Linked DNA regions of Homo sapiens. The protein of the gene in region 1 interacts with the protein of each later gene in a pairwise test. Each region holds a gene or a part of one and is shown on either strand. Other genes may lie near its edges.

What was found.
Region 2: the proteins of KIF1B (region 1) and PRKAB2 interact in binary tests that used the Homo sapiens proteins (3 or more experiments, as listed by UniProt).
Region 3: the proteins of KIF1B (region 1) and SPPL2B interact in binary tests that used the Homo sapiens proteins (3 or more experiments, as listed by UniProt).
Region 4: the proteins of KIF1B (region 1) and PLEKHB1 interact in binary tests that used the Homo sapiens proteins (3 or more experiments, as listed by UniProt).
Region 5: the proteins of KIF1B (region 1) and EED interact in binary tests that used the Homo sapiens proteins (3 or more experiments, as listed by UniProt).
Region 6: the proteins of KIF1B (region 1) and DMRTA1 interact in binary tests that used the Homo sapiens proteins (3 or more experiments, as listed by UniProt).
Region 7: the proteins of KIF1B (region 1) and WDR77 interact in binary tests that used the Homo sapiens proteins (3 or more experiments, as listed by UniProt).

What each region holds. Positions count from the first base shown.
Region 1 is NC_000001.11:10,360,570-10,364,069, reverse strand, and holds part of KIF1B (kinesin-like protein KIF1B), read right to left. Parts: intron 3,142-3,500; coding exon 3,027-3,141; intron 2,379-3,026; coding exon 2,245-2,378; intron 788-2,244; coding exon 726-787; intron 1-725. UniProt on the Homo sapiens protein: Has a plus-end-directed microtubule motor activity and functions as a motor for transport of vesicles and organelles along microtubules.
Region 2 is NC_000001.11:147,162,471-147,165,970, forward strand, and holds part of PRKAB2 (5'-AMP-activated protein kinase subunit beta-2), read right to left. Parts: intron 104-3,500; coding exon 1-103. UniProt on the Homo sapiens protein: Non-catalytic subunit of AMP-activated protein kinase (AMPK), an energy sensor protein kinase that plays a key role in regulating cellular energy metabolism.
Region 3 is NC_000019.10:2,352,684-2,355,595, forward strand, and holds the end of SPPL2B (signal peptide peptidase-like 2B isoform 2 precursor), read left to right. Parts: intron 1-262; coding exon 263-526; 3' UTR 527-2,412; downstream 2,413-2,912. UniProt on the Homo sapiens protein: Intramembrane-cleaving aspartic protease (I-CLiP) that cleaves type II membrane signal peptides in the hydrophobic plane of the membrane. Functions in ITM2B and TNF processing.
Region 4 is NC_000011.10:73,649,581-73,653,080, forward strand, and holds part of PLEKHB1 (pleckstrin homology domain-containing family B member 1), read left to right. Parts: intron 1-972; coding exon 973-1,125; intron 1,126-2,207; coding exon 2,208-2,310; intron 2,311-3,394; coding exon 3,395-3,434; intron 3,435-3,500.
Region 5 is NC_000011.10:86,258,253-86,261,752, reverse strand, and holds part of EED (polycomb protein EED), read right to left. Parts: intron 1-3,500. UniProt on the Homo sapiens protein: Polycomb group (PcG) protein. Component of the PRC2/EED-EZH2 complex, which methylates 'Lys-9' and 'Lys-27' of histone H3, leading to transcriptional repression of the affected target gene.
Region 6 is NC_000009.12:22,453,032-22,456,240, reverse strand, and holds the end of DMRTA1 (doublesex- and mab-3-related transcription factor A1), read right to left. Parts: 3' UTR 501-3,209; downstream 1-500.
Region 7 is NC_000001.11:111,442,824-111,446,256, forward strand, and holds part of WDR77 (methylosome protein WDR77), read right to left. Parts: intron 1,302-3,433; coding exon 1,231-1,301; intron 1,099-1,230; coding exon 1,044-1,098; intron 572-1,043; coding exon 500-571; intron 1-499. UniProt on the Homo sapiens protein: Non-catalytic component of the methylosome complex, composed of PRMT5, WDR77 and CLNS1A, which modifies specific arginines to dimethylarginines in several spliceosomal Sm proteins and histones.

The DNA.
Region 1 (3,500 bases):
TTAGTATTATGCTGGTTTTACATATTAAATACATGAATTTATATTAATTAAAAAAATTCCTCAAGAAACTATCTGGATAGTATAATAATTAGGTGCTACTTGGATTCATACTCAAAGTCTTCTTTACTTATCTAAGTCTTGCCTGTGGGCCCTGACTTGTTTTCCATGTATATTCTGTAAAATGACTCAAACTCACATTAATCAAATGCTATTAGAAAACCTTAACTTTTGTTCATGTTTCGGTTTACAAACATAGAAATGCTAAGTGCTGCTTAACTCCGCCTAGCTAGAGGAACAAGAGCAGTTTAAAAACACATTAAAAAGAATACAGAACAAATCTGACTTAATAATTTGATTTTTTTTTCTTTTTCTTTTTTGAGACTGAGTCTCACTCTGTCACCTAGGCTGCAGTGCAGTGGCACAATCTCGGCTCACTGTAACCTCTGCCTCCCAGGTTCAAGCAATTCTCATGCCTCAGCCTCCTGAGTAGCTGGGATTACAGGCACGCGCCACCACACCTGGCTAATTTTTGTATTTTTGGTAGAAAGGGGGGCTTCACCATGTTGGTCAGGCTGCTCTTGAACTCCTGGACTCAGGTGATCCACCCGCCTTGGCCTCCCAAAGCGCTGGGATTACAGGTGTGTGCCACCGTGCCCAGCCTAAATACAGGATACTTGAAACATACACAAAGATAACTATCACCTCCTCAATCCACAAGAGCTTACCTGGACTACCTGTGTCTGACATTTTGCATAAGCTGAGTTCGTAAATGCCAGTGACTCGATTCCTATTTGAAGAAAATAAAACAATTGTTTAATCTCTTAAAGCACAAAAACAGGAAAATTTCAATTTCTGCTACTTAAAATAGTGTCTTCTCTGCAGGGACTCAAATATAATTCCAGGCATTTCTTATTTGTCACCGCTCTTTTCTTATTTTGAACCTAAGTAGCATACCTTTTCCTAGAGGAGTCCGCTTTCATCTCAATTTAATTTTTTTATAGATAGGGTTTCCCTGTGTCACCCAGGCTGGAGTGCAGTGATGTAATCACAACTTACTGCAGCCTCGAACTCCTGGACTAATGTGATCCTTCTGCCTCAGCCTCCTGAGTAGTTGGGACTTCAGGCATACACCACTATACCCAGCTAATTTTTAAGTTTTTTTGTAGAGATAGGGTCTCCTTATGTTGCCCAGGCTGGTCTTGAACTCCTGGCCTCAAGTGATCCTTCCACCTTGGCATCAAAAAGTGCTGAGATTATAGGCATAAGCCACCATGCCCCACCTCATCTCTATCTTTTAAACACTTTATTTCAATAGGGTGAATAAAATTGAATGATAAACTAGAAAATTTAAAATATAAATGTGAAAACTAAAAATTTGTCTTTTCTTACTATAAGAGAGACGATATGAGGGAAACAATGACTAGAATGAAATGATAATCAACAACTTCTGGGGATTGTGAGTAGTAGGAGGTATAATACCTTCTATTGTATTAGTAACACTTATTTTTAAGCTGGGCGGTGATACACAGGTATTCATTGTATTGTTTCTTTCTTTTTTTTTTTTTTCCTTTTTCTTTTCTTTTTTTTAAATTTTGAGACAGGGTCTCACTGTTTCACCCAGGCTGGAGTGCAGTGGCTCTATCATGGCTCACTGCAACCTCAACCTCCCAAGCTCAAGTGATCCTCCCACCTCAGCCTCCTGAGTAGCTGGGACTACAGGTGTGTGTCACCACACCTGGGTAATTTTAAAATTTTCTGTGGAGATGGGGTCTGTGTTGCCCAGGCTGGTCTCAAACTCCTAGGCTTAAGCAATTCTCTGTCCTCAGCCTCCCAACGTGCTGGGATTACAGACATGAGCCACTGTGTATGGCCTTCACTGTATTATTCCTGACATATTTTGTATGCCTTAAATATGCATAACAAATCTTAAAAAGAAGAAAATTTCAATGGTACTCTGTTAGAAATAATGATGATGACATTTAAAAGTCTTTGCAAATTTAGTCTTTGCAAAATTGTTTTAGACGTGTTCACAATGTAATATTCCTTCCTTCCCTCATAACTCGTCCATCCATCAACATTTTATTAAATGTCAGCATGCAAGTCAGTACATTCCAGGTGTCAGTTACCAAAATGGTTCATAAACTGTAAACTAACCGTGAGACAGTAAGCCGAGAATACTTAAGGACTAATGATTCTGTTGTACTGAACAAACACACTGGAAGCTAACTTGTGTGAAAAACTTACGAATCTGGTGACTTTGAGTAGCCGCTGCCAAAGAGGCTACGCAGAGAGCGTGGTGGTGAGATCTTGGCATCTCGGGAGTAGAAGACCATGCACACATCCTTGGTGATGACAGCCGGCTGGATGCAATGATCCAGCTGAAAGCAGACAGGGTAGGTGCTGATGAAGTGCAGGCAGAGTACTGTGACTAGAGTCTATACACGAACGTATTTGGAAAGCGAGTCCCAGTTGTGAGAACTGAAGGATTTTAGCTCCACCAATTATTTCAACAGCCACCCAATGGATAATATGTGCAAGAGTAGGTAGTACTCCTTAGAGATGCATTTATTTTTATCTGAGGTAAATGTTGTTTCTCCTGATAGGTGAGGAAACTGAGGCAAAGAGAGTTTCTCCAAGGACATAGAGGAAGTAAGTGGCAGCACAGGGATTTGAACCGACAGGCTGGGTCTTGGGTCTGGGCTATTAACCACTATTACACTCTGTCCACAACTACAAAAACAAGAGGTGACATTTTCTTAAAAATCACACATTCTTCAAACAATGGTGATTAGGCTACTAAAGCTGAAGCTGCAATGAGTCATGTGATTTTTTGAGTAAACAGAACCCAGGAATAGAGTCTAATATAATCAGAAGAGTTAGCAATGTATAATAAAATGAAAAACTTAAGGATGTGGAGGAAGAAAGAGGACAAAACAAGTGGAATCTTCGCTGACCACTTCCTGCTGTAACCTGCACACTGTTCAGGGCTGACTGTTGGCATCAACTGAAGTTCCAAGTCTCCTCACCTCTAGGTAGGCCGACAAGGTCATGTAGATCTTTTCTCCATAGGGTGTCACTCGGTTCAGAAGAAGGGAGTTATGCAGAGAGCTATCCCACACAGCCTCAAAGCGGTAGAAGGTCCTAAGGTCAGAAAGACAAGAGGGAATCATCCAAAAGAAGCTAAAGTCACGTTAGTCCAGGTACTGCCACTGTCAATCATCCTAAAGAACCATACGCCAACCAACAGACACTTTCAGTTTATCAAACTCTAATAACAGAGAGGAACCCTTATCTCCTAGGAGGAAAAGATAGGTCCCCATCCTCTTGCTCCCAACCCCACCCATCATTAAGGAACACTTAGTTGTGCTTTTTTTTTTTTTTTTTTGAGACAGAATTTTGCTCTGTTGCCCATACTGGAGTGCAGTGGCACAATCTCGGATCACTGCAACCTCTGCCTCCCGGGTTCAAGTGATTCTCCTGCCTCAGCCTTCCGAGTAGCT
Region 2 (3,500 bases), about 140 Mb from region 1:
TGAAGTAGATGAGGAGGAAGGATGGGTGGGGATTTGAATCTTTCCTCAGATCGAAACGCATACATTTCTTGACCATAAGGCCCTGGGGGTGAGCTGGAAAGGTCTGAAAGATATTTATACAAATATGAGAAAGAGTTGGAGAATTAGCAAGAATGCATGGAAAAAGCTATCAATACATGGCAGCTAACATTAAATATGGTAGAAGTCCTGGATCACAAACTTGTGACCTGTGGGATCTACAGCTGTAAGGTAACCAGAGGAAAAATCTGAGTCCCCTGGACATAAACCATGAAGCTCCTCAACATAGCAACATGATTTGGGAGACAGACAAAGATATAAAGACTCAAAGACCCAGGCTCAGGGAAGAGCTACTACATGTATCAGCTGTAGGACCTTGGAAGAATCCCTCCACAATGGTCAGTTTCTTTATAAAATAAAAATAATCTTTGCCCTATTTCATGATGTTTTTAAGGAAATCAAATTAGATAATGGATGTAAAGATGCCTTGTAACTTTCAAACAATGGGAAAAGATTAGATTTTTTCTTTTTTCCAGCCAAACAACAAGGTTATAAACTCCTAAGACTACCAATACAACAATGATTGCAACAATAAGGACAAAATGTATGTAACTGTCATTAGGGAAATGCAAATCAAAACCACAATAAGCTACCATTTCATACTCACTAGGACAGCTAAAATCAAACAGACAGACAGTAATAAGTGTCAACAAAGGAATGGAGAAATTGGAACGCTCACACTATTCCCACTGCTAGAGGGAATGTAAAGTAGTCCAGCCACTTTGGAAAACAGTTTGGCAGTTCCTCAAATAGTTAAACATAAAGTTACCACATGACCCAGCATTATACACTGGGTATATACCCAAAAGAAATGAAAACATATGTCTACACAAAAACTTGTACACCAGTGTTCATAATAGCATTATTTATAATAGCCAAAAAGTGGAAACAATCAAGATGTCTATCAACTACTGAATGGATAAACAAACAGTATGTCCACACAATGGGCTCTTATTCAGCCATAAAAAAGAGCGAAGTACTGATACATGGTTAGAACATGGATGAACCCTGAAAACATTATGCTAAGTGAAAGACGCCAGTCACAAAAGACCACATATTGTAGGATTCCACTGATATGAAATGTCCAGAACAGGCAAATCCTTAAGACAGCAAGACTTGTGGTTGCCAGGGACGGAGGGGAGGAGGGAATGGGATGTGACTGCTAATGGGTACAGGGTTTATTCTGCGGGTGATAAAAATGCTCTGGAATTAGATAGTTGTGATAATCACATAACTCTGAATATACTAAAAATTACTGAGTTGTACAATTTAAGAGTTAATTTTATGATGTATAAATTACATCTCAAAAAAATGAAAAAAAGTATGCAGACAAGAATACAATATACAAAAATGAAGAGAAATATATTATAATATATTTTATTTAAATGTTATTGTTTCTTTTTTGAGAGAGGGTCTTGCTCTGTGTCACCGAGTCTGGAGTGCAGTGGCTTGATCACGGCTCACTACAGCCTTGACCTCCTGGGCTCAAGTGATCCTCCCACCTCAGCCTTCAGAGTAGTTGGTACTAAAGGCACATGCTACCATGCCCAGCTAATTTTTTGATTTTTTTTGTAGAGACAGGGTCTCACTATGTTGCCCAGGCTGGTCTCAAACTCCTGGACTCAAGTGATCCTCCCACTTCGGCCTCCCAAAGTGCTAGGATTACAGGTGTGAGCCACCAAATTCATTGTAAGAACTAAGTTCCAGTGTTCCGTTGCACAGTAGAGTGAATATAGGTAACAATAATGTAACAAAATAAAATAGCTAGAAGAAAGGATTTTGAATGTTATCACCACGAAGAAACGACAAATGTTTGAGATGAATATGCTAATTGCCCTGACTCGATCATTACACATATAAAATGTATTGAAACATCACATTGTATCTCATAAATATGTACAATTGTTATGTGTCAATTAAAAATAAAAAATACATATAAGGCAAAAGAAAAAAGCAGAAGTAATACTCTGATATTAAATAATATCTTTAAAACATATGGAACTTGAAACCTTACAAAGTATTATGCTTTGTTATTTCGTCACATGATCCACAAAATACCCTTGGGAAGTGCACAGAATAGTTTTTATTGCCTTTTCACCAGAAAAAAATAAATACAAATTGGTTATTTGCCTAAAGTTACATACATGGATAGACAGTAAATGAGTGCAGACTAAAATCCATTATCTGTAGATTCCTAGTAAAAAATGGATTATAAGCGTTACCTCAATAGATTGGGAAATTAGGAGAAAGGGAAATATCAAAAGTATGCAAGTCTTCTCTCTATATAATTATGATACATGTCTATTTATTGGTTACTTTGCCAGAATTATATAATGCAAAAATTAGTCACAAGTATCCTCATAATCTAATTCAGCATTTTAAAACCCTTTTAAATTACTGTCCCACCAGTCAAAAATAATGCCCAATTTAACCTTCTGAGCTTATATGATGAAAACAACATTTTCAAAAGTTTCCTCAACAGATGATTACACTATTAATAATAGTCTCGCTCTGTCGCCCAGGCTGGAGTGCAGTGGCGAGATCTCAGCTCACTGCAAGCTCCGCCTCCCGGGTTCACGTCATTCTCCTGCCTCAGCCTCCCGAGTAGCTGGGACTACAGGCGCCTGCCACCACACCCAGCTAATTTTTCGTATTTTTTAGTAGAGATGAGGTTTCACCGTGTTAGCCAGGATGGTCTTGATCTCCTGACCTCGTCATCCACCCGCCTCGGTCTCCCAAAGTGCTGGGATTACAGGCCTGAGCCAGTGTGCCCAGCCAATAATTTCTTTTAAAAACAGCAAAGCCACCCTTCTCCCCTGAAATTCAAATATGTTCCACTTAAGGTATTGTGCCTCCTCAGCTGAGAATCACTGAAAGTTTAAGTCCCTGGTTTTACTGTGAAGAAACTCAGAACGAAAAAGGTTGAGAGATTTGTTCATGATGGCAAAACTAGTTAGTAGCAGAGGCAGGCTTTGAACTCACAGGAGAGAAGTGTGCTCACTGGGAATACTGTGCACAATTCTTTAGATAGTTCTTATTGTAAAGTAACAAAATGGTAACTACAAGTGTGGTTAGCAAAATATTCTCTGATACTATAGCAATTGTAAGCAGAGATGAAGGCCTTGGCTCAAATAATATTAGAGGAAATAAAAGTGTAAAGATATTTTCCGCTACCATAGACTTTTTTTTTTTTAACCAAAAATTTACAAAATTTCAATTACCTACAACAGAATTGTCAGGGGGCAGGGGGGTGGTTGTCTTGTTTTTGAGGCAGTATCTCACTCTGCTGCCCAGGCTGGAGTGAGGAGGCTCAAACATGCTTCACAGCAGCCTCGACCTCCTGGGCTCAAGCAATCCTCACGCCTCAGCCTCCCAAATTGTTGGGACCACAGGCATGTGCCATTACGCTCGGCTAATTTTTA
Region 3 (2,912 bases), on another chromosome or scaffold:
GCTTTTCTTTGGAGAGGCTTTGCACAGCTCCCAGCCTCTGCTGGCCTCGGATGGCCCTCCCGCGGCACCTGTGCCGATGGACAGGGTCCTGGGTGCCCGTAGGTTATGGAGCCGGCCCCCTCCTTGGGTCCAGAGCCCCTGGGGATGGCGCCTCATTTTGACCCTGCCCCCGTGGCCTGCGGGTGCTGGGTGTCCTGGCCCCTGCCAGGGTCCTCCTCTGGGTCCCTGTCTCCGCCTCACCTCTGCCTCCCTTCTCCTGTAGAAAGTCCTACCTCCATCTCCGTGGGCCCCAGCACCAGCCGACGGCCCGCAGCCTCCCAAAGACTCTGCCACGCCACTCTCCCCGCAGCCGCCCAGCGAAGAACCAGCCACATCCCCCTGGCCTGCTGAGCAGTCCCCAAAATCACGCACGTCCGAGGAGATGGGGGCTGGAGCCCCCATGCGGGAGCCTGGGAGCCCAGCTGAATCCGAGGGCCGGGACCAGGCCCAGCCGTCCCCGGTAACCCAGCCTGGCGCCTCGGCCTAGGGGAGGGGTGAGACGCTCGCTGCCGTGCCCGCCACACCAAGATGTTGGGGCTGCCTGGCGCCCACTGGAGACAGACAGACAGACGCCTGTCCCCCGGGACCGAGGCCTGTGCCGTCCCCACCCGCCCCAACATGGTGCTCATCCTTGCCGAGACCCCTGCGGTCTGTGCCCGCGCCCAGCCCAGCTGCCCCGGCTGCACGCCTGCTGCTCCCAGCTCGCCCGGCTGCCACAAGCTCTCTGCGGGTCCATCCTCCCCACCGGGGTCCGTCCTCGCAGGCCCTGCCCGGCCTCTCTGCAGACCCTCAAGCGTCGTCTGCATGAGTGAGCAGGCGTGGGTGGACTCTGGCCGCGGCCACACTTGGTGCTCACCAGCTGCTTCGGCCTTCAGGTGACCTCCCTCCCCACGGCATCCTGCTCTCCGGGTGGAAGAGCAGCTTTCTGTCTCCCAGAAGGCATCGCTTTTCCCTCTTGAGCAGATCGGAGCCCCTGGGAGGTTTGGAAGCTGCCTCCAAGCCTAGGACACGGACCAGTGGCCGGGGCGGCCTCTGGCCCCTGACGCTGGCTGAGACAGGCCCGTGGGGCGGGGTTTTGGGGCGTGAACAAGGCTGGCAGTAAGTGGACAAGCTGCTCCCCTGGCTAAGGCCCTGCCCTGCCCTCAGCCAGAGGTGCCTGGCCATGCCTGCACACTCCTCCCCATTTTAATAAATGGTCGCAACTTCTAGAAGTCCTGCTGGTGCCACCTGGTGGGGTGGACGTCTCTCAGACTGCCCTTCTGACAAGCAGGGGTGGGCGCCAGGCAGGCTGGGTCAGGCCCTCAGGGGTCCCTGGAGCCCTGGGAGGGAGGGACTGGGTCGTGGGAGGTCCTGGTAGCTCCCGGCACCCAACCTCGCTTCCCGTGTGGGCCCCGTGTTGCTTTTCTGCTGAGAGGGGCTTGGGCCTCGGTTCTCCCTGTGGCAGCGGCATTGGTGCCTGGGTTCTTAACCCTCTGGACCCAGCAGCTAGGAGCTTCTGGAACCCACGAGGACATCTGCCACTGGCATGGTCTACTCACTGATGGGGTCCTCCTGACTCCAGGGCAGAGACGTCCGTGCGGGAACTGACCGAGGCGTGGCCCCAGGCCCCGGCATCCTCCCCTCGCTGCACGTGGTCACTTCCGAAGCAGCGCTCCCTGTGGCCGCAGAGACAGAGCCCGCACCCTGGCTGTCTGTGGTGCCTGGGCCCCAGCTCCCGCCCGCCACCCGCCCTGTTGAGTGCGGCCTCCAGACTCGAGTCCAGAATCTGTTTCTGTCAAGTCAGTCGTCCCCAGCTGCACACGGGGACTGCTGAGCGCTGCGCTCTCACGGGTCTGTTCCGGACAGAGGGTGGCAGGGGTGAGCCCTGATCCCTTACAAAAAATACCAGCTTCCCAGGGAGTAATGGCGCCTTCACTGAAGCCATTTTGTACATGGGGACGGGGTGGGGACGTCTCTTTTTTGGTGTTGGACGTTTGACCAGTGGGGAGGGGTTCAGAGGCGGCGGTCCTGTCCTTGGCTCCGTCTGTCCGTGTGGCCTTGCTGCCATTCCGTCTGATCATTAAACACAGCTTTTGATACATATGGCCCGGCCTCTGCCTCCGCAGTGCACGGCTTGGGGCATCTGCTCTGTGCAGGTCCCGGTGAGCAGAACTGAGAGCTGGCAGGCCGCCTGGCTGTCCTGCAGAGGACGGATTGGAATTGCCACCGCAGGGCCGGCCAGTGCTGTGAGGTGCCCAGCGTCACTCCCATGGGCTCTGTGGGCCATGTGGTCCCTGTCACGCTTCTCAGCTCTGCCACTGTTGCTGGAAAGCATCACAGACCATGTGTAAAATGGGCCAAAATACCTTTTACAAAATTAAAATAGAGATGGGGTCTTGCAGTGTTGCTGAGGCTGATCTCGAACTGCTGAGCTCAGACAATCCTCCTGTCTCGGCCTCCCAAAGCGCTGCAATTACAGGCACGAGCCACCACGCCCATCCCTCAAGTAATTTTCTCGCCAGACCCTGAAATTGGAATTGTATAGCATCCTCACGTCTCAAAAGAGTTTATTATTATTTTTTTCTCTTTAAAAATGCAAAGACCTGTCTTAGCCGCTTTGGGACAAGGTTTGGTTTCCAGCTGCTGCTGGCTGGCGCTGGGCCTGTGGGCACGTGGGTGATGGATGCGGGTTTGTGTGCGGGCCGAGAGGCCAGTGAGTCCTGAGCATCTGCCAGGCATCAGGGGCTGCTGTGTGTGTTGTTCTAGTCTCACAAAGTTCTCCGCTACGTTAGAGAAAGTGAGACCCAGGCTGGGCATGGTGGCTCACGCCTGTAACCCCAGTGCTTTGGGAGGCTGAGGTGGGAGGATTGCTTGAGCCTGGGAGTTTAAGACCA
Region 4 (3,500 bases), on another chromosome or scaffold:
TTGTGCTTTGGAATCCACAAAGCCCTAAGAAGCTCTCTTATGTCTTTGCCCTTCCCTGTTAAGATTTCCAGTTGCAAAATGTCAGAAGCTCGGTCTCGGGCTTCTAGACCCACCTCTGACCAGAGTCATGACCTGAGCAAGAGCTATCCTGGGGACCCCTGGGACAAGCAGCCCCATGCCCCATACCCCTGCCCATTCTCAGTTCATTTAGTTCAGCAAACACTGAGCCAGGTCTCCCTGGGTGCCAGGACCTGCGTGGGGAGCCATAGCCCCCAGAGTGGTACAGGAGGCAGATGCTACACAAATAACCATCACACAAGTCAGAGATGAGAGATAAGAGGCCGGGCACAGTGGCTCATGCCTGTAATCCCAACACTTTAGGAGGCTGAGTTGGGAGGATTGCTTGAGCCCAGGAGTTTGATACCAGCCTAGACAACATGGTGAGACCCACTGTCTCCAAGAATACCTACCTGGCTAATTAAAAATTAGCCAGGTGCAGTGGTGCGTGCCTGATGTTCCAGCTATTTGGGAGGCTGAGATGGGAGGATCACTTGAGCCCAGGAGGTTAAGGCTGCAGTGAGCCATGCCTGTGCCCCTGCACTCCAGCCTGAGTGACAGAGCAAGACCCTGTCTCAAAGACAGAGAGAGAGAAGATGCAGGCTTAAGGTAGGGAGAGGTCTTTGCCCTTGAAGAGACCTGGGGCTTGGCCTTAGAAGCTTCCAAGTAATGGGCCCAGTCACTCATTTCCCTGTTCAGCACGTGTATCGAGCTTCTGCTATGCATCAGACCCAATGGGAGGCAGGAGGTGAACAAGACAGAAAGAGGTCCTGCCCTCATTTCAGGGGGTAGACAAGAAAAAGGTGGTTGTAACACTAGGGACTGAGGCTGAGGGGACTTGGGAGTCTGTCTGGGGCTTCTATTCCCAGCAGGCTCTGGGATCAGCCTGCCTAGTGCATCTGGAATATCGTACAGGCTCCATCCTCCGCCGCTGGAAGCGGAACTGGTTTGCCCTGTGGCTGGACGGGACCCTGGGATACTACCACGATGAGACAGCGCAGGACGAGGAGGACCGTGTGCTCATCCACTTCAATGTCCGTGACATAAAGATCGGCCCAGAGTGCCATGGTGAGCAGAAGCCCCTTCCTCTGTGGCACCGTGACTGTGGGCAGAGCCTCCCGCTGTCTCCGAGAACACTTGCTGTTGGAAGTCTTTTTGCAGCTTTCAGAGGCATTTCACAGACATTGCTTCTGAGCCTCTGTCAACTCCAATTCAGTTTGGTGTGAGTTAAGAAATAGGTCCTTGGCTGTGTGTGGTGGCGCATGCCTGTAATTTCAGCACTTTGGGTGGCTGAAGCGGGCGGATCACTTGAGGTCAGGAGTTCTAGATCAGCCCGGCCAACATAGCGAGACCCTGTCTCTTAAAAAAAAAAAAATTGGTGAGATGCGGTCACATATGGCTACTGGGGAGGCCGAGGCAGGAGAATTGCTTGAGCCCAGGAATTCAAGGCTGCAGTAAGCTATGATCCCAGTACTTTGAGAGGCATGTAGATTACTTGAGTCTAGAGTTCAAGACCAGCCTGGGCAACATGGCAAAACCCCGTCTCTACCAAAACAAAAACAAACAAAAATTAGCCGGGCATGGTAGTGTGTACCTGTAGTCCCAGCTACTTAAGAGGCTCAGGTGGGAGGATTGCTTGAGCCTGGGAGGCAGAGGTTGCAGTGAGTGTTCATGGCACTGCACTACAGCCTGGGGGACAGAGCTAGACCCTGTCTCAAAAAAAAAAAAAAAAAGAAAAAGAAAAATCAGTCCTTTAGTGCCTTTCTCCTCTGTGCTGTCTCAGAGGTGAGCCAGGCACAGTTCCTGCCCTCCAGGCGCTCGGTACTGGATGAAGACGAAATGAAATTAGGAGGCCCAGAGAAGCGAAGTGGCCCAGAGTCACAGCAAATCTCCACATTCCTCCACCAAGGCCCAGGCCACAGTTCTAACAGGGTAACTGGGAGGTGTGCTGAGGGAAGCCTCAGCATGGAAAGGTTGGAAAGGTTGGAAACGTAGAGTGGAATCCCTCAGAGAGTATATGGGATCAGAGGAGGTTGGCAGTGGCCAGTAAACAGAGCCCAGAGAAGTCAATTCCTATTCCTGTCCCTGCTTTACTGGGGGGACCTGGGGCTTGTGCCTGTGGAAACCCATATATGTGTGTCTGCTTCCAGATGTGCAGCCCCCAGAGGGCCGGAGCCGAGATGGCCTGCTGACTGTGAACCTACGGGAAGGCGGCCGCCTGCACCTCTGTGCGGAGACCAAGGATGATGCCCTGTGAGTCACTCCCAGGAGAGGATGGGGTGGAATCTCGGGGAAAGTTACCATGTGCCCCCTTCTCATTGGGCCTTCTGGTTCTCTGACCGTAGGAAGAGGGCACTAAGGCCAGTCAGCAAGGGAGTCTTATTGGAGGCGGGTGGAGTGGATTTGAAGGGCTTGTGGTGACTGGCATGGCACACAGTGAACTCCTCATGTGGTCTACAGTGAACTCAGGATTGCTGAGGGGGAGGTGTGCACACCTGCCTCAGGTATCTGGTTCCTGGTCTTTAGCGGCCTCTGAGGTGAGCCCTCACCTGAGGGTGATGCAAAGCAGCAGAGCAGCCTAGTGGCACCCTTGCTCCCTTCTTAGAAGATGCCCTGGTGGGGGACTCTGATCTGAGGGGTAGCCCTGGACCTGCCTACAAAGGCAGTCAGCTGCGTCCCAGGCAGGGGCACCCCAATGTCAGATGCATATCCACGTGGCCAGCCTGGGTGTGTCCTTCTCAGGCACCATCTGCTGGCTCACATTCCGTCCCTTCCTACCCTCTGGCTAAGGGGTACATGGCCTTTGCGCTGGAGGAGAGTGAAAGAGATGGGTGTGTGGGAGTGGGGGAAGCTGAGCTCCAGGCAGACAGCACAGAGCCGCCTTGTCCAACCCAGCCAGGTGCCATGGCAACCAACAAAGGCCCCATTGTCCCGTGTCTGCTGGGCCTTCCTGAGGCTCTGGGGTCAGAGCTTTGGGGAAGTGTTTTGTTTGTAGATTTGGGATGTGGAGGGGGACTGGGCTACAACACCCACCCAAGAGTGTCAGAATCTGACATCCCCTGAGAGACCACCCAAGCCCAACCGTCCACTGTATAGATGAGGAAACTGGAACTTCTAGAGGGGACGAGAAGAATGAATTAGCCTAACTTAGTGCTCCATCCATGTGACTGGGGCAGGGGAGGGGTCACTTTTGTCTTCCTGAGGGAGACAAGAGATCTCTCCTTTCATGAGAGACTTGGGCTTGAGGCTGGGTTGGAGAGGAAAGTCTAAAATGTGGGGGCCCAATTCACCCACCCCCAAACTCCCTCCTCATGGTCTGGTGGGATTTGCTTTGCAGAGCATGGAAGACAGCACTGCTGGAGGCAAACTCCACCCCGGTGAGTCTCCCGTTCTCTCCCCCTTTCCCCACCACCTCCATGTGCCATGGAATCATGAGTGACTCA
Region 5 (3,500 bases), on another chromosome or scaffold:
GCCATAGCTTCTGAAGGTACAAGCAGCAAATCTTGGCAGTGTCCATGTGGTGTTAAGTCTGCAGATGCAGAGAATGCAGGAACTGTGGAGGCACGGCTTCCTCTCTAGATTTCAAAAGACATCACAAAGAGCCTGGGGCTCCAGGCAGAAACTTTTCAGAAGGGCAGAGCCACACAGCAGTTCCTACTACAGCAACACCTGGTGGAGCCATGGGGAAAAAGCCATCCCCCAAATCCCAGAACTGCTGAGCTACCAGGGCACACCACCAGCCTGCAAGAGCTGCAGGCACCCGACTCCAACTCATAAGATGCTATGTGGGCTGCACGTGGCAAACCCATAAAGATGGGGCTGCCCAAGGCCTCTGGGGCCCAAACTCCACACCCAGCATGCCCAGAAGGCAAAACATGGAGCCAAGGAAGATTATTCTGGTGCCTTGGATTTAATCTTGTTTGTTCTGTTGAGTTTTGGATTTACTTGGGACCAGTTACCCTTATTCTTGCCTATCTCTCCTTTTTGGAAGGGACTGTCTATCCTATGCTTATCCTACCACTGTATTTTGAAAATAGATAAGATGCCTGATTTCCCAGACCCACAGATGGAGAATTTACCTCAGCAGGAATCCTGCCTTGAGTCTCACCCATATCTGATTGAGGATTTGAATTTTGGGGGCTAGAGGCAGAATGCTACAGCTTAAATGAACCCCCGAAAAAGCAGGTTGGGAAACTTAATCCCAATGCAGCAGTGTTGGGAGATGAGACCTAATGAGAAGCGTTAGGTCATGAGAGTACCACTCTTATGAATGAATTAATTCCAATTATATATTAAAAAAAAAAAAGGCTTCAAGTTCAATTTCTTGTTCTTACTTTCTAATGCCAGGTTAAAGTGGACTAAGACAGTAAGTTCAGAAATATTCATGTGGTCTGAAAAATATTTTAAGCATATTTATCTCAAATAACTTTCTTTAAATAACCTAATTTGATGGAAATATACTTTTGAAATAAAATACAGATTTGACATAAGCAATTTTATCCCACAGAACAAGATACTAGCTTTTCCCTTCACCATACTCACATTAAAAAATTGAAAGGGGACTGAGATTTATGATTTTTACAGTAAGCTGAAAACATAACTACATATATCATGCACAATTTTATAGAATGACAGTCCCTCTTCAAAAATTATGCAGCTATAATTTGAGCAATGTTATATTAAACATTAATAAAGAATGTACAGCAGTAGCTCACACCTGTAATCCCAGCACTTTGGGAGGCCAAGGTGTGAGGATCTTTTGAGGCCAGGAGTTTGAGACCAGGTTGGACAACATAATGAAACCGTATCTCTACAAAAAATTTTTAAAAATTAGCCAGGCATGGTGGTGTGCACATGTAGTCCCAGCTACTCAGAAGGATGAGGTGGGAACATTGCTTGAGGCCAGGAGCTCAAGCTACAGTGAGCTGTGATCACATCACTCTACTATAGCCTGGTTGACAGAGTGAGATCCTGTCTCTAAAACAGTATTTAAAAAAAAGAAAGAATGTAAAGCAAAGACACGTCATGTAAGCTTGAAATATAACAATGTTCATTCTGTCTGTGAATATAAATGCATCACATAAACACCCCAGAGGTAGTAATACATGTGAAAATTAACAGTGCTGTAAAAATGATTCCTTGATTTCAATTTTGTACAAGCTTTTGTATGGACATGTTATTTCTGTTGGGGATACATATGTACACCCCCACCCACACAACCCTAGGATATACATACATATGTAAACATCTAGGATTAGTGACTCTGTAACATTTTGAGGAACTGCCAGATTGTTTTTCAAAGTAGTTACATTTTACATTCCCACCAGCAGTGTCTGAGAGGGCTCTGATTTCTTCTTGTGCCAGTCAATACTTGTTAGTATCTAACGTTTTTATTACAGCCACCCTAAGTAGGTGTGAAGTGGTATTTCATTATGGTTTTGATTTGTATTTCCTTAATGATTAATATGTTAAACATCTTTTCATGTGCTCAGTGGCCATCTGTGTATGCTCTGTGAAGAAATGTCATTCAGAACTTTTGGCCATTTTTAAATTGGGCTGTCTTTTTATTGTTGAGCTATAAAAATTCTTGATACACGTCCCTTATTAGCTGGGAATCATGGCTCATGCCTGTAATCCCAGCAGTTTAGGAGGCCAAGGTAGGAGGACTGCTTGAGGCCAGGAGTTTGAGGACCAGTCTAGGTAACACAGGGAGACCTCATCTCTACAAAAACATTTTTTACAAAATTAGCCAGGTATGGCGGCACGTGCCTGTAGTCCTAACTACTTGGTAGGTTGAGGCTACAGTGAGCCATGATCACACCACTGCACTCAACCTGGGTGACTGGGCAAGACCCTGTCTCCAAAAACAAAAAATAAAAATCAAAGTCCTTTATCAGAATGATTTATAAATATTTTTTCTCCTTTTGAGTAGGCTTTTTTACTTTCTTGATAGTATCACTTGGAGCAAAATTCTTATTCATGCTCAAACTTCTGATTTTTAAAAATGCTCTTACTGACACAATAGAGGAAGACCAGGGTTAAAAGTTGTGATGTTGGGCTGTGCGCAGTGGCTCACGCCTATAATCCCAGCACTTTGGGAGGCCGATGCGGGTGGACCACCTGAGGTCAGGAGTTTGAGACCAGCCTGGCCAACATGGAGAAACCTCATCTCTACTAAAAATAAAAAAAATTAGCCAGGCATGGTGGAGGGCGCCTGTAATCCCAGCTACTCGGGAGGGTCAGGCAGGAGAATCACCTGAACCCAGGAGGCAGAGGTTGCAGTGAGCCGAGATAGAGCCATTGCACTCCAGCCTGGGCGCCAAAGCAAGACTCTGTCTCAAAAATAAATAAATAAATAAATAAATAGAGGCAGGACGCAGTGGCTCACACCTGTAATCTCAGCACTTTAGGAGGCTGAGACAGGCGGATCAACTGAGGTCAGGAGTTCAAGACCAGCCTGACCCATGTGGAGAAACCGTATCTCTACTAAAAATACAAAAATTAGCCGGGCATGGTGGTACATGCCTGTAATCCCAGCTACTCGAGAGGCTGAGGCAGGAGAATCTCTTAAACCCGGGAGGCAGAGGTTGCAGTCAGCCGAGATTGCACCATTGCGCTCCAGCCTCCGCAACAAGAGCGAAACTTTGTCTCAAAAAAAAAAAAAAAAACCAAAAAACAAAGAAAAGAGAAAAAAAAAGTTGTAATATTTAGAACAAGTGAGGCATTACGGTCTATACAGTTGTTCAGAAATATCTGAGCCCCAATTAGTGTTATCAAGAGACAAGAAAAAGTAATCAACTCTTCCTAGAGGTAGTGATTTCCAAAATGCAATGCTTTCCCTTTATGGGAATATTTCAAATAACTTATCCTGAAAAACGTAGCATTTTTAAGAAATTCTATAGGAAATCCTTTATAAAACAAAAGCTTTTTTAAAAAATAAAAAAGCAATATGAATTTTCATATGTAGTATT
Region 6 (3,209 bases), on another chromosome or scaffold:
GGCCCAGAAAAAGGAATTATGGTGAGATTGTTAAGGTAGAAGTGAAACACAAGTCATTAAGGTTAGATACCCAGTGATTTCCAGGCTGTCTTCACTTTTCCTTACTCCACATCTAGCTTGTCTTCCTGCCTTCTGACCTCACTGACCCATGGTGGCACAGGTTCACCACCAGGTGTTTGCTCACAGACCAACAGAGCTAGAACCTACACAGAGGCACTGGTTTCCCATAGCCCCCCTTCAGAACCCCTGGCTGGGAACCATTTGAGTGATTGGACATGCTGGACTTCACAGAGCTTCAGTTCCCACTTGTCAGCCCACACCAGTGCTTCAAGTAGATGAGTGAATCTTTCTCTTATCTGCCAATTTCCCTCTTCCAGACATTCATTTTCAAGCTCCTCCTTTGTTTATGTTAGGTTAAATTTCTATAACTCCCTTATTTCCACATATTACATGGACTCTGTTTTCCTGACAACCCCAATAAATGTAGCATAAACACAAACTATGATTTCGATGTTTATTTTCTTCAGAAAGCCCTGAAAATAATCCAAATAACATATACGAGAATATGTTACAAAACACGTGGCTCGCCTATGAAATGAACAACCAAACACGAAGTCTGGAACTAAGCCTGTACGCTGCTCTAGTGATGGCTGCCCTTTGGGCTCCACATCCACTAAGTGGATTAAATGCAATTACAGTACTCTTTGTTGAGAGACTGCCACGAGGGGGCAAAGATAATATCTTAATACAAAGTAATAACAGTGAGAGTTATTTATTTAGCATCCCGTATATAAGCATTACTGTACTCTGCCGTTTATTTAAGCTTTTATCTCCACGAATCTTGCAAGTTAAATATTATTACCCTTGTTTTGCTGAGAAGAAATAAATGTCCAAAGAGTATAAGTAACCTGTCCAAGTCATATAGATAAATCCATTCTAGGTTTCCTCAATTCCAAAACAATTGCTTCTTCTAGAAAGACATATTGGTATTTACCTTATAGGAATTGTACTAATATTTGTCTTCAGTGTTCTCCCATATCCTCTTTAAGCCCCACTCATGCCTATATACCTTACACTAACCTCTGTCAGTTTTATTCCCTTGTAAGTCACGCACTGCGTTCTATGTCTTTCTTTTCTGCCTACTCTCAGGAGGCTATCACATAGGCAAAATTCTGATGAGCAAAACTGCACTGTGTTTTATTGATAAATAATGGTAGGGTGTTTTAATTTTCATGGCCTTAGAATTGAAATTCCATGACTTATTTATTTAACAAATACTTTCCATGTTTCTAATGAGCTACAAAATGATTCAGTCCCAATATTAAAGCAGTAATTAAAAATCCCATCAATCAGGCTCTGATTGGTATTTTCTACATGCATTTTTCAATGAGTTCCAGATGCTTTATCATACGAGGCAGCCACTACACTCTTGGACAGCTGTTAACTGTGAAAAAAGTCATTCCTTATGTTCTTCTGAATACTCTATGAAATGTTTGCCTCTTAGGCCCTCTATATGATACAGAATAAACCCAATTCATTTTTGTTATATGCTAGCTCTTAAAGCATTTACCCCCTCTTTCTTCCCACCACTAATTAGTGGCTTAGGAGTTCAGGCTTCAAGCAGCATCCATGGATATAAATATCAAGATTACAAAGAACTCATTGATGTACCAACACTGTCAAATAATACCAACATTGGTTGATTGGTTGTTTTTGTACACACAATATAGACCGTGAGCAACTTGAGGCAAAGTCTTGTATCTTAATCATTTCTTTATCTCTTGTGTCTAACACAGTGCATGGCACAAATAGATTATTAAAAATATTAAATAGGTGTTGAATGAAGAAATTATTAAGCTAATACTTGCTTTTATTTTTTTTCAGTCAGTGGAAATCTAGTGTATAGGTTGAGAACCTATATCAGACACTGTTCAAGGCCATGAATGAAAAAAACAGACATGAATCCTTCCTCAGACATTGGAGTCTGAAATTGCTGAAGTGAGCACAGTAATTCCACTGCAGATGACTCATATTACTAACCTTAGGGAGAAAAAACCCTACTGCTGAGCCCCAATTTCCTCATATACTACTGAGTTGTTAGACAAATGACCTATTTGATAAGATTAAGTCCTTAAATTATTATAAAGAGTATGGAATGTGTAAGGCATTATATAAATTAAGTTTTATGATTATAAAACTATTTTATAAATTCGAATACTGCCCAAAATGGATGTTCTCCCAAGGTCAAAAGCAATTCAGTTTCTCAGATACAAGCACATCATTATAAAACCACATACATAATGCAGTAACTCTAGGATTTTTTTTTAAACCATATCTCTATTGTATAATGTAACTTCCTTTAGAGCACAATATTTTACATTCAGTATCCTCTACAGGATCTAGCACTTTTCAGAAAAATAGCATTCAATAAGTGGATTAATGCAATAGAAACAACTGAAGAATCACCAAGGAATCTAACCTGAATACCATTTAGGAGATTCAAGAACCCAGTGAAATTGTATGCAAAACTGTGTGTCTGTACGCCATTTTGTAGAGTTCTTCAGTTTTATCAGAGTCTCAAAGAGATCTATTATATATAAGAGTTTCTTACTCAGTATATATGAATTGAATTTCAACTACTTGCTAGACATTGTACTACGGTTTAGGCTTAGAATATAAAACTTTTTTATAATAAATGAATATTGAGTACATCGAAATTTTTCAAGATCTGCTTTCTTATATTCACACCATTAAAATTAATGCATAACCTAATAAACACATTTACATCCTAAATCAGCATCAGATACTCTGAAGTAATTTAATATCACATTTGCTGGCAAAATATTCCTTGGAAATACATTCTTACTGGCTTCATGAAAAACGCCTCCATGATAATATAACCTATAGGGGTTTAATGTATGTCTACATAGACTTATATATGTGCATATAGATGCATACACACATACGTATATACATATAATTTAAAAAATCTTTAGTGAGTCATGCTGCTTAAATAGTTTAAACAATCTCTAATTCATCAACTATCTTTTACCACCAGTGGGCTTCCATTTATTCCTAATAATAACAATGAAGCTACTGTCCTTCAAAAAAGAAAAATGATGACATACAAAGAAAATGTCCTAGAAACTGTTTTGTAAGCAGTTTCCTCAGGGACTTTCCACTGACTGAAATAAATAGTTTTCAAATGC
Region 7 (3,433 bases), about 100 Mb from region 1:
AATCCTAGTTCCTCGAGCTTGTAAAAGTTAACCATTCTGAGCATCAGTTTTCTCTTTTGCAAAGTAGGAATAATAAGTCACTGGATCATTGTGAAAATTAAGTTAATGAACGAAGCAGTTATTATTTTAACCACAAACTATGTCACCATATACACAGCCTCATGACCACGATAGCGCTACACCTACCCACAGTAGGACAGAATTCGCTATATAGCAATCCACTTGCTTTGTGGATCACTGACTTATAGCCATGCCCAGAATACAGAAGCTGGATCAATCAATCAAAAATCAAATCCACTGGGAAAATAATCATGTTCTCCAAAACTACACTAAAACTACGTTGGCATCACCCCACCTCCCCACCCTCAATTCATAATTCATCTAGTGTCCATGAGGGCTAAGACTGAGCAACAAGGGCCTTGTGTGTTGTGGAGTCAGCTCTTTCTTTTTCCTCCTCCCCTTTCCCAGAGTCAATATGAAGTCTGACACGCTGCCTTACCAAAGACAAAGACTTCACTTTGCTGAGGATGCCAAGCCAGCGAGGTAGGAAGGTAGCCAGGCGCACTGCAGCCTGCAAAGGAGAGACGAGGGTCTGGACCAAAACTCAGAGTACAGAAGAAGCAGTTTCTCAAATGATATCACTCTAAATCCTGGGAGCACCTTTATTTGATTTCCCAAACCCTGCTAAGGCAGCAGTGTCCTCATCCTTGAGCCTCATAACCATTTATCCCAGCAGCCTCCTGCCCTTTCTGGACACGAGTCACAGGCAAGTTTCAGGCACGAATCATGACGATAACAATTCTGGCCCCTTTGTCCTACCATCTAATAAAGTAAATCACCCACCCAGGAACTGGCCCTTCCTCTTGGTATTCATTGCACAGAATGGGGTTAGCAGAGCCTCACTGGAAAAGAAGGAGATTATGTCACTCATGTCACAGTAACTACACTGGGCATCTAGCAACTATGCTTTGACACTGGCCAAAGACAGTCTCTTCTATCAGGGTTCCAAGTACTATTCTCCCACCAATGAATCTCAGACTCACCAATCTGTGATGCTGGCTTGGGACAGCGGGTATCCCAGAGTAAAATTCTATTGTCCTAGAGGAAGGTGGAACAGAAAAAGGATTTCATAATCCAAAGGAGCAGTTGCAGGCCAGAAAGTCTCCCCACTAGAGACTTTGGCCTATGGATGGCTGGAGTGTGTTTAGGGAAGAAGGAGCTATCTCTTACCTCGCTGCATGAAAGAAACACAGAGTCCTTGTGAGGAGAGGCAGCAACACAAGTGACCTGAGCAGCATGAGCTATAAAGGAGAGAGAAAGAGAAATATGATAGAAAACAAGCTGAAGCATTACTAGAGGGCCAGCCCAGGAATAATCAAGGGGCAGGAGGGAGGGAGGGCTGGTCTCATGATGCAATTTAACAAATTTTGTGGGAGATTATGGATTAGACAAAAGCTAAGAGGAGAAGTTTATAGACTTATAAAACCTAAAAAGCCTTGTAAAAAAAAAACGTATTAGTGAAGATAATGAATGAGAAATTAGGGGCTTAGTAAGAATAACAAAGGAATTTCCAGTTTAGGCATCCTAGACGTGAGGGCTAAATAATTCTAGAATAGCAGTCTTCATACTGGAGTACACACACCTCCAAGTAGTATACAAAAACTTTTGAGGGAGTTCTGGGCGCTAATAGTATTAAGAGAGCCAATTTCTCTAATGTTCTCTTTCTTAAAATTGAACTGCCTCTGTTTTCAATCACTCTTCTCCCACTTCATAGAAAGAACACATACCTGTCATTCATCCCAGATCTTTCCACGCTACAATGCTCAGGGGTATAAAAATATAAGGGTTCTAAACTAAGGGACAAAAGGGGCTTTTCCATAAGAACCAAAGAGCAAAAAGAAAGAGCATCTAGGTAAAATTCAATGAAGGGGGCTGATCTTGTTTCAGTCACACCACAAACACAAGTATGGCTCTGTGACTTAACTCTGTTTCTGTCTAATAATGAGAACTAAAAAATATGATAGATCATTGTGATAAGGACATATTCAACAACTTTATCTGAATTTAAAAACAAAGTCAGACTTTTTCTGACAGAAAATTTAGTCTATCTTGGTCCACTGGCTTTACAATGCAGACTGGCTTTTGCCAGTTAGGCTGTTTGGTAGACATTCATGCAAACTAAGTAGCGTTAACCTGCGAATCTAAAATTTTGACAAATATATGCTTGAAATAAGCACACAATAAATTATATGCCAGAAATTACCTTCTCTGCAACTACTTAAATAAGCATTTTTAGGTATCAGTTTAAAAATGTATGAGGGGGCACAGATTTTCAAAACTGTTTTAGGAGGTCTACATGTAAAAAACTTTAAAGTCACTGCTACATGTTAATTAGAAGCTGTGGAAACCTTTTCTACAGTCATTTTACCAGACTTTCCCAGGTAGTCTGAATGTGGCCCTTCCCTGAGGCAGAAGGATGGAATTAAACCAGTTTCCATAGTTCTTTCCTAGCCCTAGAATTCATAGAAAGCCAACAGGATAAGAAGTAAGAAAAGGAATTTATTGCTCACTTGAAAAAAGCAAAGCTCTGGGACAAGCACCATGGTGGTGTACAAAAGATGAATACATGGTTCCTCTACCCTCAAAGGTTTTGGGGCAGGGTGCAGTGGCTCATGCCTGTATCTCTCAGCACTTTGGGAGGCCAAGGCAGGAGACCACTTGAGCCCAGGAATTTGAGACCAGCCTGGGCAACATAGCAAGACTCTGTCTCTACAAAAAATAGAAAAATAATAAAGGATTTGGAATTCAGCAGGGGGAATAAGACACAAACACAAAGAACTAACAAAAAGGCTGCATGGCAGAAATGCTGAAAAAGAGTTAGCATTAACCAGGAAAGCACATCATATGTCTAAGAAATAAAAAGCAAATATAATAGACATAGAACATTGACTTTTTTTTTTTCCCTGAGACAGTTTCACTCTGTTGCCCAGGCTGGAGTGCAGTGGCGTGATCTCGACTCACTGCAACCTCCGCCTCCAGGGTTCAAGCACTTCTCGGGCCTCAGCCTCCCAAGTAGCTGGGATTACAGATGTGCACCACTACGCCTGGCTAATTTTTGTACTTTTTGGTAGAGTCAAGGTTTCGGCATGTTGGCCAGACTAGTCTCTGACTCCTAGACTTCATATGATCCACCCGCCTCAGCCTCCCAAAGTGCTGGGATTACAGGCGTTAAGCCACTGCGCACAGCTGGGCATTCAACATTATTGTAAAACTATTTCCAAGTGACCCTGAGGGTCCAGGATACTGGACCTTGGATATGAGTCAGTGATTTCTCTGGCCTATAACTTAGTCATGTACTTTGAAGTTAGAAATGGCAGGGAAAGGCACTTAGCCATTGAGAGAACCACAGTGATCCCCCAGCATCTAAACCTTG